Linked DNA regions of Homo sapiens: region 1 is linked to region 2. A link means that fine-mapping ties the variant in region 2 to the expression of a gene that starts in the linked region. Tissue or cell type: whole blood. Region 2 holds a variant in brackets; the other region holds the start of a gene. All regions are shown on one strand. Distances are from middle to middle. Region 1 holds the start of PIGV (phosphatidylinositol glycan anchor biosynthesis class V). Region 2 overlaps ARID1A (AT-rich interaction domain 1A).

What was found. PIP is the estimated chance that this variant, and not a neighbour inherited with it, causes the effect.
Region 1: it holds the start of PIGV, and the variant in region 2 is fine-mapped to the expression of PIGV in whole blood (INTERVAL, PIP 0.92).

Annotation. Positions count from the first base shown.
Region 1 is chr1:26,785,173-26,790,542 of GRCh38, reverse strand. PIGV (phosphatidylinositol glycan anchor biosynthesis class V) reads right to left here and starts at 2,593. Exons shown (of 4, transcript NM_017837.4): 1 at 2,275-2,593. RefSeq lists enhancers at 1,017-1,146, 1,954-2,153, 1,841-2,667, 2,714-3,153, 3,674-3,823 and a silencer at 2,454-2,663.
Region 2 is chr1:26,718,405-26,723,774 of GRCh38, reverse strand. The region is part of intron 1 of ARID1A (AT-rich interaction domain 1A); the gene reads right to left. Among named protein-coding and RNA genes, the nearest start is that of ARID1A, 25 kb to the right of the region's middle. RefSeq lists enhancers at 1-646, 1-675, 706-1,285, 1,286-1,866. The variant C/T (reference allele first, on the strand shown) is at 2,742.

The sequences.
Region 1 (5,370 bases), 67 kb before region 2:
GTAGCTGGAAAGCTAAGGTCACAGAAATCTTTTAAAGCCTATTGGATGCACTTCTGCAGGAACTAAAGATCTGGGTTCAACTCCTGACTCTGTCACTTACAAGTTCTCATTAGTCCCTCTGAGCCTCAGTTCTTTATATAAAAAATGGGAGCAGACTTTTTTTTTTTCCTATCTCACAAAATTGTCATGATGGTGAAACAGACCAAAGTGTGAAGTTCTACTCAAATCTGTGTTGTGGTTGCTATTATTTGGCGTGTGCCCTTTTCCTCTTGCCCAGAATAATAAACTAGGTCCCAAACCAGAGTCCCCAAAGTGGGGCATAAAACCATACTAGAAGACCATAATGACTCCACACTCTAGCTTAGCTCTCTGATGTGTGTTCAGCTGGTCTGTTAAATTAAGTGGGGAAGGAAAAGAAAACCACCACTCAGCAGGACCTCAGCCAGCTCACACTGCTGAAACAAACTGAGGGTGAAGACAGAGTAGACTACCAGGGATGGAGAAAACTGTTATTTGCCATCTCTTTGTTGGGATGGTAGCAACGTATAAACAATCGCAAAGCCACTCCGAGGCAGGGAATGCACCTTAAGGCATCTTTTATAATTCCTTGAGCTAAAAGGAGTCATAAAGGCTCCTCAAGAACTTTCAAACACCAGCCTGGGAAATTTGAAAGGAAAGCAAAAGCATCAGAGGCAGCTCATCAATTTGGGATGAAGAACTATGCCTAAAAGGAAAAAAAAAATTTGAACTGAGAAATTTAAGGAGGACGGCTGGAAGACTCTTTTTCTTCTCTTATCTGGCGAATACCTAAAAAACCTGTATCACTTGTTTCTGGAATTCTCTGATCCTCACTAGACAGTGTGCTATGCCCTCATTACATTCTGCCCTATTGCCGTTATTGCTATTGCTTATTTAAGTTGCTAAGGGCAGGGGCTTTACATCACAACTATATCCCAGGGCCTAGAACACAAATAGGCATCTTAAACCTGTGTTCTGAATGAATGGAAGTGGTAGGGACAGGATACAGCATCAGCAGTTCACTGACTCTAGATATGAAATCAGTGCCCCAAGTATTCTTCCCATCATATCTCATGTCAAGAGCAAGACGACAAAGTCACAGAAGCCACAGGAAAATAAAATTTCCCCAGAAAGGGAGCCAAGTTGGCCAATGGCAACAGTACTCTTTCCTTGGCACAAGGGGGCGCCTGCTGCTTACTCCATCGCCAGGAGGCCTGGAGGAAGGGAGGGGCCCCCAATTCCACACCGGTTGGCTCACGAAAATTCGGTTCAAAGGCAAGCTTCTGAAAGCCCCAGACAGTAACGATAGTTTGTGAATCTAAACGTTTCCAACGTATGACTCGCTGAATCGAGAGAAATCACGGAAATGGGCATACTCAACCTCACGCGGCTACTCCTTCCCTATCCTAGGGCGAATTCACTCTTTTTTCCTCTTCCTTGGCTTCCCACGCGCATGCAGAAGAGAAGCTGGGATCAGAAAAGCACCTAACCCACCTCTGCCACTTGACCATGCTTGCATTCTTCCTTTCCTCTCTCGAGTCAAGCTCTAGCCTCAGCGACTACAGATGTGTGTAGCCCACACTTTGCTTACAGGTAAACCAAGTAAAAACAAAGCTAGTCAATTCTCCCTCTCAGCTAATTGCCCACCTCACTTCCCAACAACCCCTTTGCCAAATCACAGACTCTTAACTGGCAGGACACTTACAGATCAACTAGTTTCACTCTTCAAAAATTTTCCCGTGAGATAAATAGGCTCCAGAGATCTCATCAGACACTGTGAGGCTAGTATAATTACCATCGCCATTTTATGGATATGGAAACTGAGGCTCACTGGGGTCAAGTGACGTACCCAGGGCTACTTAAAGAGGCTGTCATGTTTTCTGCTTCTTAAACCTCACGGTACCAGCCCGCATCCCTCGCCAAAGGGTACGCGCCCTTTCCGAGCCAGGATTATGACCCAGGTCACCCAAACGCCTAGCCCAGTACTTCCATGCCGCAGCCTGCCCTTGCTAGGTATGCTTAGGGTAGTTGGGCCCTATCTGAGAATCTGGGACATCCTGTTGAACGGCAGCTCTGGACCCTCTGGGTAAGACTAACACCCCCTGCGCAGGCTGGAGAAGTCGCTCTGACCCAGGGTCCTCAGAGCCAAAGGCCTCGTGGGGGCTGCCTTCTGTCAGCCCAGCCGTGTCCGCAACCCGTTTCTGGCCGGCTCCTTTTGGACACAGTCCCTTCTGGGTACTAATCATCCACGCTCACCCCAGAGGGGCCACGGCCCAAGGACCACTCCCGAGGGAGCCTGCAGAGCCCCACCAGGCCACAGGGCCGGAAGCAGACGAGGGCGGGAGGCTGGAAAGGAAGAGGCGGCGCCCGAGGCTGCTATGGCGGAGGGGCGGGGCTCCCCGCTTCTCCGGGCGTCTGTCTCATTTCTACCGGCTTCCATTTGACAGCTTCCCTCCCGCCAGAACTCCAGGGCTCCCAAGCTGGCGCGGGGTCCTCAGCCCCTGCCCGTCCCGACCTCCCCGGCGGGGACCGAACCTCAGCTCCTCCATCCGGGGCCCACGCGGCCCGCGCCTGCGCGCTGGCTCCGCCGACGGCGTCCCCGCCCCGCTCCTGCCCGGACTTGGAGCAGCCCCGCCTCCCTGCGCGGCGGCCATGTTGACTCCGGGCGAGCGGGATGGGGGTCGCCGCTCGGCGCCTCGCCTCGTAGCACCTTCCCACCTTGGTGACACCTGAAGAGTTCTCTCGCACTTCGCTCTCCTTCAAGGCCCCCCGCCACCCCGCCTTCAAATAGTGAGCGGAGGCTGCTGTCTCAGAGTCAGTGCTCTTGCCCCAGCTCCCGCTGACGTTCACTGAGTTCCCGGTGTGGGCCGAGGCTCTTGTAGTCGGAGGCTGACCCGCAGCCTCTTCACAGAAACCAGAGCCGCGCTCTTCCTGCTGTCAGGCAACAACAGCTCAGCACAGGGCCTGACACACAATAGATGTCCTCTGAATAGCCAAAGAAAAACATTCTTGGGGTTTCTGTGGCCGGCAGCGGCACCCTGCGTCCTGGGTGTGAAGAAAGTGGGGGATCCCCCTGATTTTCCCCTCCTCTATCTACCAGAGACCTTCTGTCCTACTTTAGTCCTCAGCCCCACCTCAGGTGGCTAATGAGGATGGTGAAGAAAACCTCAGAGAACACCCTCCAGGGCTCCTTTCACCTCCCTCACCCAAGCAGTTTCTCTCATAGGAAGTGGGGCCAAAAAAAGAAGAAAAAAAAAGAGGCGAACTCAACAAAACCGTCTATTGGGGGGAGCGGCCAGTTTGTACCCTTGTAACGGAAACTGTTAGAACAACTTTGCACCCTCCTTAAAGGAAACAGATGATAAATCCTTCTCCGTTGGTGGATTTCTTGTTTCTCAGGATTCCAAAGCCTTATGTGGTTTCAGTTATCTGCCCTCCAAACGAAGCCAGGGGCCGGGTTAGCCTCTGGCCACAGCCTGGCTCAGGGAGGGGTTTATCTTCTGCAACGGCTACTCATGTGGGTGGGAACAAAGAGATGGTTGCTACCTCTCCAGGCGAAGACCAGCCCACATCAGTCTGTGGGGGCCTGGGACTGTATCTCTTGACTCTGTAACTCATTTCAGGCCCTGAGACCTAAATTGCCTTCAGATATCTGTTGTGTGCAAGGTGGAGAAAAGGCAAATCATATTTAGTCGTTGTGTGTTGGAGAAGGGGGAAAAAATGGAGTTTCATGGCCCTTCCCCCAGGTTTTTCAGTGCCACGCACTTGTTCTCAGCTCCAGAGGCCTGTGAGTAACGTGGCAAAGCCTGGGGACACACTTGTGACTGGGGCCTAAGGCTGTGACTTGAATCTCTAGAAGTCCACCATGAGGCTCCAAGCAGCACTCTCTCTGCAAAGACAAAACTGAGAAATGAACTGTCCTTGCTCTGTAAATTCACAAGGGGAAAAAAGACATGCATTCTCAGGGTTCCCTCTGTCCACATCAAATTCTCTCAAAAATCTATTTGTAAAAAGGCCAGGGGTCTCTCAAGACAAGTCAGAATGTTTTTTAAAAGCTCAGCTGTCACCCTGTAGAGGTAGAACTTTATCCAGATTTTCAGCTGTACTTTCCTGCAATTTCTCTTTTCCTTCTCTGCTACCCAACCCCCTCCTCTTCCGCTCTGTTTCCTGTTTCATTTTCTGACTTCTGCTCTGACAGGAAAACAAGGAAGCTGAATCTTGTGCTCTCAAAGCCCTGACTCCCTGGTTTCAGATTGGAAGAAGGCTAGGTGGGATAGGAGGGGATTCTGGGACTCCAAGGCTTTGAGTAGTGACGGAGGCAGCCTCTCAGTGTTCTTGTAGAGTCTGCAGCTAAGATGGAGCCTGCATCTACCCAGGGAGCCAGCTGAGCTACCAGAACTGTGGAAAGCAAGTGAGAAAGAGCCATATCCCAGGCTCCAGAAAGACTCCACACTTCCCAGCCATTTCCATTAAGAAGCACATATCCCACATCACCAAGAAACAATATCACATACAAATCCCTAACCAGAACAATGCAAGCAATGCATTACTATTCTAGAAGCTTAGGATTTAAGAGGGTTACATCATTTCTGTTCTTTGAACTTGCCTGGCTCTGCTCTTGCTATTTTCCCTGCTTGAAGCACTCTACTTCCAGACCACCCTTTGGCTAGCCCATTATGTTTGGGTCTCCGGAGAGAAGTCACCTCCTTAGAGAGGCTTTCCCTGTACTATCCCATCAGTCTGTTCTGTTTTTTTTTTTTTTTTTTTTTTTTTTTAAAGATGAGGTCTCACTATATTGCCAAGGCTAGTCTGGAACTCCTAGGCTCAAAGGATCCACCCACCTTGGCCTCCCAAAATGCTGGGATTACAGGTGTGAGCCACTGCGCCCGGCCTCTGTTTTCTTCATAGCACTTAACACTATCTGCTTGTCCTGTCCATGAATTTTACTTGTTTCAATGTCTGTTTCCCTATTCTAGAATGTAAGCTTCTGAGTGTAATGGAGGAGCAAGGGCTTTGTTCACCAATGTATTTCCAGTTAGAACAGTGCCTTGCACACTGTGTGTCTTCAATAAAGATCTGGTCAATAAATCAATTTCTTTAATCCTATACCTATATTTTATGGATGAGGGAGCTAAGGATCACAAAGGGTAAGTGACTGGCAAGAAGTCACATAGCTAGTGGTAGCGATGGGACTTGAATTCAGGTCTCCAGCCTCCCAGGCTGGTTCTCCCACTCTACACTATTTTAATCTTTCACAGATTTACCTCTTTCCCTCTCTTCCATTTTTCCCATATGTAAGAGTCTTTACGGGCTATGCTAAGATGGGCACACCAAGTCTTAACAGCTCTGACC
Region 2 (5,370 bases):
GTGATCCCTCTGGTGCATGCCTGCTGCTTGCTGAGTCCCAGTACAGTAAGCTGGGAACCGCCCACTGAGAGCCAAACACAGGAAAAGGCTTTTCCTGTGGAACGCCTTGAAGTGAGAAACACATGGCTAATCTGCATAAACTCGAAGCCACACCGCCCCTGCCAGGAAGGTTAGTGCTCGTAATCTCTGGCCATGAAGCTGGCTGCCTGGGAGGACTTGGACTGGCGCCTGATAACCCAGAAAGAGCCGAGAGAACAGATGGGTAAGGACCCCAGCAGAAAACAGCCCCAGGTCACATGACTCGCCACATGGCCCCGCCAGCACAAACTATTGTCTGGCTTCAGAGCTCCCTATACAAAGGCACCCCGTCCTCCGCTTCCTGTGATTCCAGGGACAGGCGACAGCTGTTGATCCAGTTCCAGTATGGGACCCTCCCCTGTGATAGGGCATTCCAGGCAGGGGCAAGTGTAAAAATTAAGGCCTCTCCCAACCAACAGCTTTCAGCTTCCTGCCAGCTGCACGTGGCTCACTTAGATCTCAGGAGTAATATCTTAGGACAGACTAGGCTTCCACCAAAAAAATCACCCTATGTACCCTGGTACATAAAATGACCAGCATAAATCATTCTCATTGTCCCTTCTCTCCCCAGCCAGACAACTGTATCTAACGCCCCTTATCCTGTCTTTTCTATATCCCCTAGTATTTCAGACCTTCTTTGAAGACTAGTCAAGAACCCCTAGCCCCCAATTGAGGAGAAATTGTCCAGAAACATGTTTGTCTTAGTTTTACTCCTAGACCCCGCCTCCTAAAATAAGGAGACTACCTTCATCTTGTTTTAAATAGTGGGGAAACATGACTTTTTATATGACCTAGGACAATAAGAGATTTCTAACCTCCTATTTGGCCTCAACAGAGACAACACTAAAGATTTCCTGAAGCCAAGCTGATGACAGGAAAATAAAAAAATCTCATTAGATTATACCAACACCTGTCACAGGGAATCAAACCCACTCAGCCTATGATTCTCTTCATTCATAACCTAGGAACCATAACTCAGTTTTCTACTTCACAATTCCTTCATTCTAGTTCATTCAAGTTCTAAACAAACTGACCATCTGCCTTTGGTGAGAGAGGAATCAACAACTAGTTTGCAACTACCACTCCCCAAAAAAGTTTTGTTTTTTAAAAATTCTTTCAAACTTCCATAAATTTCCAAGTGGAATAAAAATTGGCCAGACGCAGTGACTCACGCATGTAATCCCAACACGTTGGGTGGCCAAGGCGGCAGATCGCCTGAGGTCAGGAGCTTGAGACCAGGCTGGCCAACATGGTGAAACCCCGTCTCTACTAAAAATACCAAAATTAGCCTGGCATGGTGGCACGTGCCTGTAATCCCAGCTACTCGGGAGGCTGAGGCAGGAGAATCGCTTGAACCTGGGAGGCAGAGGTTGTAGTGAGCAGAGATCACACCACTGCACTCCAGCCTGGGTGACAGAGCAAGGCTCTATCTTGAAAACAAACAAAAAAAACCACCACAAAAATCAGTGAAAAGTTCTATCTACCCCATTCTGCTTACAGAAACCATTCTAGAAGATCAGACACATTCCCCTTTGCAGACTTAGCCCATTCCAATGATATCCCCTGAAGCACTAGCCTGATCAAACCTCCAGGAAGGCGCTTGCAACCAGATGTCAAACCAAGAACATCTAGAAAGTGATGTAAAACAAGACAAAGGCCTCATTCTCTTCTGGGCTTAGAGATATATAGACTACCATATCTCTATCCTTCCAGACCAGAAGATAAGAGAAAACTCACTAAGGTTAGAAGAAGGAGACCAAAAGGGGAAGAGTCATTGAATCATGTAGCAAAACTCAATCAGATTATGAGAAACAACCATAATAACCACCTCACAGCTGTCTACCAAAAAGAGGCATGCCAGAAAAACCACAACCAAGTGACTGATGCTTCTTCACTTCTTTGGCACCAGAAAGGGCCCTTCAAATAAAGCAGCTACAGCATCAAACTAATGAATCCCAACAAATGATAAGTCCTTCTCTCTTCATCCAGGGCACTTTCATTAGCCACATTTTCCATAACAGGTGGCTATCATCATTTCCAGAGAAAATGCTCTTCCTAAAATGATGAAGATCACTTTTTCCTAAGACTAAACTTAACCAATTTCTCCCTATTTCAAACAAATTACAAAAGCCACTAAGGAAACCAAGTAACTTCTCTGGAAAAAATCCTTTCAGGTACTGCTTAAAACCAAGGGTTGCCAGGCGCGGTGGCTCACGCCTGTAATCCCAGCACTTTGGGAGGCCGAGGAGGGCGGATCATGAGTTCGAGACCAGCCTGGCCAATATGGTGAAACCTGGTCTCTACTGAAAATACAAATATTAGCCGGGTGTGATGGCACGCGCCTGTAGTCCCAGCTACTTGGGAGGCTGAGGCAGGAGAATCACTTGAACCTGGGAGGTGGAGGTCACAGTGAGCCGAGATCGCACCACTGCACTCCAGCCTGGGTGACAGAGTGAGACTCGGTCTCAAAACAAAAACAAAAACAAAAACAAACCAGGGTGACCAAAACAATAGTAAGACCCCAAGAAAACTATGAAACAAGAACCAAAATGTCATCTCATAAAATTAAACGTCCCCTTCTTTACAACTTTTTATCTCAAAAGGCAGCAGTACAACCAGGTGCAAAGAGCAGTAAACTGAGAGGCAGTAAGTACATCTGGGGT[C/T]CAATCCCAGTTCTCAGACCAACTTCCTGAGGGAGTGGTCAAGACAATCAACCAGGTTGAACCTCAACCTCCTCAGCTACTCAATCCAATTCTACCCTCCAGATTCTTAATTAGCAGGTCTGGGATGGGGGCCGGGCCAGGAATCTTTTTTTTTTTTTCTTTTGAGACAGGGTGTCTCAATCTGTCACCCCGGCTGGAGTGCAGTGGTGCAATCATGGCCCACTGCAGCCTCAACCTCCTATCCTGGGCTCAGGTGATCCTCCCACCTCAGCCTCCTGAGTAGCTGGGACTATAAGCACATGCCATCATAGCCAGTTTTTGTAGAGATGGGGTTTCACCATGTTCCCAGGCTGTTCTTCAACTCCTAAGCTCAAGTGATCTGCCAGCTTCAGCCTCCCAAAGTGCTGGGATTATAGGCATGAGCCACTGCGCCCAGCCAGGAATCTGTATTTTTAATCTTAAGAGAGTCTCGTATCCAGTCTGGGAGCATTTGGGCTACATGCCCAAAGGTTAACTGACAATCAAATAAATTAAGGTTGTACCTTTTTTTTTTTTTTGAGATGGAGTCTTGTTTGCTCTGTCGCCCATGCTGGAGTGCAATGACGCCATCTCAGCTCACTGCAACCTCCACCTCCCGGTTTCATGTGATTCTCCTGCCACAGTCACCCTAGCAGTTGGGATTACAGACCTGTGCCACCAGGGCCTGCTAATTTTTTTATTTTTGGTAAAGACAGGATTTCATCATGTTGGCCAATCTGGAAGGTTGTACCTTTTTTTTTTTTTTCGAGACAGAGCCTCGCTCTGTCACCAGGCTGGAGTGCAGTGCGTGACCTCGGCTGACTCCAACTTATGCCTCTCGGGTTCAAGCAATTCTCCTACCTCAACCTCCTGAGTAGCTGAGATTACAGGTGCATGCCACCATGCCCGGCTAATTTTTGTATTTTTAGTAGCAACGGGGTTTCACCATGTTGGTCAGGCTGGTCTCAAACACCTGACCTCGTGATCCACCTGCCTCAGCCTCCCAAAGTGCTGGGATTACAGGTGTGAGCCACCACGCCCAGCCCAGTTGTACCTTTTTTTTTTTTTTTTTTTGAGACGGACTTTCACTTTTGTTGCCCAGGCTAGAGTGTAATGGCGCGATCTCGGCTCATTGCAACTTCTGCCTCCCGGGTTCAAGCAATTCTCCTGTCTCAGCCTCCCGAGTAGCTGGGATTACAGGCGCATGTCACCATGCCCGGCTAATTTTTGTATTTTTAGTAGAGACGGGTTTTCATCACATTGGTCAGGCTGGTCTCCAACTCCTGACCTCAGGTGATCTGCCCGCCTCAGCCTCCCAAAGTGCTGGGATTACAGGCGTGAGCCACTGTGCCCGGCCTCAGTTGTACCTTTTTAAAAAGAAAAAAAAAAAAAGTATAGAGTTTCACACCACTTTAAGCAAGTCACTTCATCCCTTGGCACCAGAATCATCTTTAAACAGGGATTAAAAACTGTTTAACAAAAATATGAGACAGTTCAAACGATAAGTATGTGAAATGCCTGTTATAGTGCAAATCCATCTCCAGCACAGAGTGTCTCTAGAATTCAGATGTACATTCGTTTTCCTTAGCCAAACAATGGTCTGAAGAGGGCAGTGCCTGGCCAGTAAAGAAAAGCTAGAAATGCACCTCAGATTCCCAAATGAGCAGCACTTTCAGCCAAAATCAAGCTTCCCCAAATTCCTATACTCAGTCTCAGATTTTTCTGGTTCACCTGGGCAAGTATCGTAACATACTAATGCTTTACTTATTTATCTTGTTTGCTATCTGTATCCTTGACTAGAATATAAATTTCAGGTAGGCAGAGATAAGAGATATGTATACAAAACAAACAAATGCTCCCCTATGCCCAAAAGCAGGAAAGGAAAGGGGAATGTAGAAGAGAAAGTGAAACTCTAGTGGCCTGGCAATTCCTGTCCCTATTAATGCTGAACTGAAATGCTTTGGATCTACAGGAGTACCCCCCATTATCCTTGATTTTGCTTTCCAAGGTTTCAGTTACCCACGGTCAACCACAATCTGAAAACATTACATACAATAAGATATTTTGAAAGAGAGAGACCACAATCACATAACTGTTGTATTTTATCATTAGTTATTGTTAATCTCTTACTATGCCTAATAAATTAAACTTTATCATAGGTATGCATGTATAGGAAAAACAAAGTACAGTCAAACCTTTGTATCCATGGGTTCTGCATCCACAGATTCAGCCAGCCTCAGATCAAAAATGTAGTTAGTAGGCCTACGATGGTTGTGCCTGTACTGAATGTGTACACTTTTTTTCTTGTCATTATTCCCTAAACAATATAGCATAACAACTACTTACATAATATCTACGTTGTATGAGGTATTATAAGTAATCTAGAGATGATTTAACGTATACAGGAGAATGTACGTATTAATGGTTTATATGCAAATACCATGCAATTTTATATATTCCACAAATTTCAGTATCCTCAGGGAGTCCTGGAACCAACCCCCTACGGATACCGAGGGGCATTTGTACATATAGGGTCTGGTACTTTCAGGCACCCACTGGGGGTCTTGGAAGATATCGCCGCACAGATAAGGGAGGACTATTGTACATGGCC